Regions from separate parts of the Homo sapiens genome. Here region 2 is linked to region 1. A link means that fine-mapping ties the variant in region 1 to the expression of a gene that starts in the linked region. Tissue or cell type: whole blood. Region 1 holds a variant in brackets; the other region holds the start of a gene. All regions are shown on one strand. Distances are between the middles of the regions.

Region 1 (2,500 bases):
TTGGAACATCAAGCTTATTGATGAGCAACGGAAGCTGGAGGTAACAAGACTGGTGTTTGGAGATAGGGATTGTGGCCAACCAGCAGGACACTGGCAAGTATCATGACAGCTGTTGAGACTGCAAGGTGTTGAATCATCAGACTAAAAGGCGTGCCAACCCACCAGAGTGTTTTCTGTCTTAGAAAGAAGATGGTAGTTGTTTTTCTTCCTCATATGTAGCAAAGCGTATAGGTCACATTGCCTGGTAAGAGTTTTCTGCAATGGAGCTGTAGCTTCACTGTCTAGTACAGCTGCTACTAGCCACATGTGGCTGTTAAGCACTTGAAATGTGGTTAGTGTGACTAAGTAACTGGATTTAATTTAATTTAATTTATTTATTTAGAGACAGAGTTTCGTTCTGTTGCCCAGGCTGGAGTGCAATGGCGCAATCTCGGCTCACCGCAACCTCCGCCTCCCAGGTTCAAGCGATTCTCCTGCCTCAGCCTCCCGAGTAGCTGGGATTACAGGCATGTGCCACCACGCCTGGCTAATTTTGTATTTTTAGTAGAGATAGGGTTTCTCCATGCTGGTCAGGCTGGTCTCGAACTCCCCACCTCAGGTAATCCGCCTGCCTCGGCCTCCCAAAGTGCTGGGATTACAGGTGTGAGCCACCGCACCCGGCCTGAGTAACTGGATTTTAAATTTTACTTAATGTTAATTAAAGTTTAAATAGCTTCATGTGGCTAGTGGCTATCATTGGTTAATGCAGGTACAGATCATGAAAAAGAGAATGATTCAAAAATTACTTACCAGACTTTAAAACGTAGTTTATAACGTCTTTTTTTTTTCTTTTTGGAACATCGTTATATTTCTATTTTGCTTAGACTGGTTGTATTCCCCCAAGCGCTTAGCAACCACCAGTAAAGACTTCACCATATATCATATGAAAATCTTGGGCGTTTTTCTTTTTTTAAGATGGAGTTTTGCTCTTGTCACCCAGGCTGGAGTGCAATGGCGCGATCTTGGCTCACTGCAACCTCTGCCTCCCTGGTTCAAGCGATTCTCCTGCCTCAGCCTCCCAGGTAGCTGAGATTACAGGCACCCCGCCTCCCCAGTTCAAGCGATTTCCTGTCTCAGCCTCCC[G/T]AGTAGCTGGGATGACAGGGACCCACCACCATGCGCAGCTAATTTTTGTATTTTTAGTAGAGACAGGGTTTCATCACGTTGGCCAGGCTGGTCTGGAACTTCTGACCTCAGATGATGCACCCACCTCAGCCTCCCAAAGTGCTGGGATTACAGGCGTGAGCTACCGCGCCCGGCCAATCTGGGGCCTTTTAAAAACAAGTGTTTAAAAATATTTTGTCCAGGTGCGGTGGCTCACGCCTGTAATCCCAGGAGGGAGGCCAAGGCAGATGGATCACTTAAGGTCAGGAGTTCAAGACCAGCCTGGCGAACATGGTGAAACCCCATCTCTACTAAAAATACAAAAATTAGCCAGGCGTGGTGGCACCCACCTGTAGTCCCAGCTACTCAGGAGGCTGAGGCAGGAGAATTGCTTGAACCCAAGAGGCAGAGGTTGCAGTGAGCCAAGATTATGCCACTGCACTCCAGCCTGGGCAACAGAGCAAGACTCCATCTCAAAAAAAAAATTTTTTTTAAAGATGTATCTATATTTGGAATGCTTCATACATTTCAGAGGTATTACCATACCCCAATAAAGAAATAATCGTTAATCTGAAGAAGGGCTTCTAATGTCCCTTGTCCATAAAGCTATTGACTTGAATACCTACCCTGAGGACACACTATGCTAGGCCTATGTTGAGGGTGTGTGTGTGTGTGTGTGTGTGTGTGTGTATTGCCTAATTAAATCCTCACTGTGTGTGTGTGTGTGTGTGTGTGTGTGTGTGTGTGTGTGTGTGTGTGTGTATTGCCTAATTAAATCCTCACAGTGGGCCAGGTGCTGTGGCTCATGCCTGTAATCCCAGCACTTTAAGAGGCCGAGGCAGGTGGATCACCTGAGCTAGGGAGTTCAAGACCAGCCGGACCAACATGGAGAAACCCTGTCTCTACTAAAAATACAAAATTAGCCAGGCGTGGTGGCACATGCCTGTAATCCCAGCTACTTGGGAGGCTGAGGCAAGAGAATCCCTTGAACCCAGGAGGCGGAGGTTGCAGTGAGCCAAGATCATGCCATTGCACTCCAGCCTGGGCAACAGAGCGAGACTCCATCTCAAAAAAAAAAAAAAAAGAAAAGAAAAGAAAGAAAAATTCTCACAGTGCAGTAGCCCCCTGAGGTGGGTAGTAGTATCTCTTGGGCATAAGTAAGTAACATGAATATCCCTGAGAGATGGTGACTTTCCCAAGGCCTCACAGTGAATAAGCCGTGAAGCAGGTTTGGCTCCCAAACCTCTGGTTTTTCCTCCTCTACTCTGCTGAATTCCTTTGAGCAACAGATAGTAAATTAGAGAATGAAGAGTTGGCTGTAAAGTTTCGTCCTTTGCAGCTCACCTCAAATGCTCTCCCC
Region 2 (2,500 bases), 48 kb after region 1:
AGAGGATGGCCCATTCACAGCCTTTGAATAAAAATAAATATTGCCAAACTGCTTTCAAGGAAGGTTTTCTAATTCATCCTCTCACCAGCAATATAGGAGAGCGTGTGGCTCACATTAATAAAAAGAACTCTGCTGTTTTGAGCAGTACTAAGCGGAGCGTTTAAACTTATATTTCTTTGATTAGGAAGGCTGACATTCGTTCCTGCAATTCATATTTCTTCCTTACTGAATTGCCTGTTCCTATCCTTTGCTCGTTTTTCTATAGGGATATTATTTCATTCTTTCAGTGTTGTTTTTACAAAATAAACAATTTTTTTGTTTGTTTTTTCCCCCGAGACGGAATCCTGCTCAGTTGCCCAGGCTGGAGTGCAGTGGCGCGATCTCGGCTCCCTGCAACCTCGGCCTCCCGGGTTCAAGCGATTCTCCTGCCTCAGCCTCCCAAGTAGCTGGGATTACAGGCACGCGCCACCACCATGCCCGGCTAATTTTTGTATTCTTAGTAGAGACGGGGTTTCACCATGCTGGTCAGGCTGATCTCGAACTCCTGACCTCAGGTGATCCGCCCGCCTCGGCCTCCCAAAGTGCTGGGATTACAGGCGTGAGCCACTGCACCCGGCCCAACAAATGTTTTAGAAAGCCATCTGGATGATAGTCCATGACTGCTGAACACCGGCTGAGGTCCACAAAACTGCGCTCACCGCTTGGGGACTTTCCAGCCGGCCTTTACTCTCCATGGAAAGCGGTCTTTCCACAAACCTCCACGGTGGGAATTACTGCAAAGGCATCGGCTCTCCCGGCCTAGAATATCTCGCGGGATCTCAGCTGTCCTTGGGCCCCCCCCCTCAGCGCAACTACCAATCCCAACATGCAACGCGCCCCGTGGCCCAAGCGCCCGAATGAAGGCTCGGGGCCAAAGTCATGTGTCTGACTGCGTCACACGTCCCGTCATCTCTCCCACGCCTTTTTCTTCAGCGTACACCTTGGTCGCCATCTTGTGCGCGAGGTTATGGAACCTCTGAGTCCCGCCAACTCTATGGTCGAGCGTTTCAGGGATCGGCCAATCGTAATCCAGATCTCGTAGGAAAGCCCCGCCTCTATCCGCATGGAGGCGGGAATTGCCACGAAGCTCCTGTGGAGGGAGAGGAAGCAGCTGCGGAAAGCCAATAAGAGTGGGGAATCGATGACGTCAACCAATGGGGACGCGGGGATATTACGGCCAATGAGAATGGAGAAGGTCCAGGACACGTGGGTGGGGGAAGCTGAGCGCTGAGACCAAGGGCTAAAGCTGGGAGGTGAGTCTGTCACCTTGAGCCGGGCGAGCGCTGTGGGCCAAGCAGGGGTTGCAGGGTAGTAGGAGTGCAGGTGACTTGGGGCCGGGAGCCAGCAATAGGCAGGGTTGTGGGCTGGGCAGTGTGGAGGGGTATTTCCCCCCAGTGCTGGGAGAGGCTATGGCAATCTAGATATGGCCTTATCAATGAATGTTAATTACCAACGGTAATGAACGATTGACTGCCTCGGCTGGGGCGGGTCGGGGACTGCTGTGTAAGATGGGCAGGATCCTGCGCGACACCTGCCCAGTATCCGCCTCCAGTCTTCCCGAGAGACCATTCCCTTTCGCAACATTTCCTTCCTGGGGCTTGGGCACATTTCCTTGACTTCCGATCTCCATGACTTTGCTTTGAAGACCCACTGCTCTGTCCCTCTGACCTCTAATGCCCTCCTCAGCTGGGGCACGGTGCAAGGAAGAGCGTGGTCTAGGGAGGACGGACGGGGGTGAAGGGGACGACCAAAGGTCGTCATTATAAGCAAACAACCAGGGTCTCAGTGGGATTATTATTACTATTTTTTCCCCCTCTGCAGACTGAAAAAATGCAGACCGCCGGGGCATTATTCATTTCTCCAGCTCTGGTAAGGTGCCGCGCCGCAGTGCTCTGTAGTACCAGGTGTATGGTGTGGACGCCATCAGTGTTTAATGAATGAACCCAGGGGAGCTTGGCGTCCTGATGATGTAGGCTCTTTGAGGTGGCTGTAGGATGTGATGAAGGTAACCCCTGTTTATCTGGGCCTGTGAACCAAGCTATCTTGGCTTTGGAATGTGGTCAGAGAGTCTGGATTTGATTTTTATCCCCAGTCTGTCCTGGCCATAGAGACAGCCCACTAAAACAGTGGTTTTCAACAGTGGCTGCACGTTAGAATCATCCAGGGAACTTTTTAAAATCCTGATGCCTAGGCTGCACCTTAGACCATTTGCATCAGACTTTGGGAATGGGGGTGGAACCCAGGCATCTGTATCTTTTAAGACTTCTCCAGATGATTCCACCGTGCAGCCAAGTTTGAGAACCACTGCACTAAAAATTATTTCAAAAAAGCCATGTTACAGATGGCTCTCCTTGGATGGCTATTCCAGTCGGTTTCCGGGGCTGACTGGCCCACTCCATTTAGGGTGTGTAGCTGTGAGTGTATTTTAGCAGAATAAAATTTCCCCCATCTGATTACTTGG

What was found. PIP is the estimated chance that this variant, and not a neighbour inherited with it, causes the effect.
Region 2: ATP5MC1 starts here. The variant in region 1 is fine-mapped to the expression of ATP5MC1 in whole blood (INTERVAL, PIP above 0.99).

The regions. Positions count from the first base shown.
Region 1 is chr17:48,843,521-48,846,020 of GRCh38, forward strand. All of the region lies in intron 2 of CALCOCO2 (calcium binding and coiled-coil domain 2), which reads left to right. Among named protein-coding and RNA genes, the nearest start is that of CALCOCO2, 14 kb to the left of the region's middle. The variant G/T (reference allele first, on the strand shown) is at 1,123.
Region 2 is chr17:48,891,549-48,894,048 of GRCh38, forward strand. It overlaps ATP5MC1 (ATP synthase membrane subunit c locus 1), which reads left to right and starts at 1,239. Exons shown (of 5, transcript NM_005175.3): 1 at 1,239-1,362; 2 at 1,861-1,908. The coding sequence starts at 1,870. It overlaps LOC105371814 (a long non-coding RNA gene), which reads right to left. Exons shown (of 4, transcript NR_135674.1): 2 at 699-1,129. RefSeq lists enhancers at 55-1,034, 672-1,131, 1,142-1,261, 1,842-1,951, 1,992-2,041.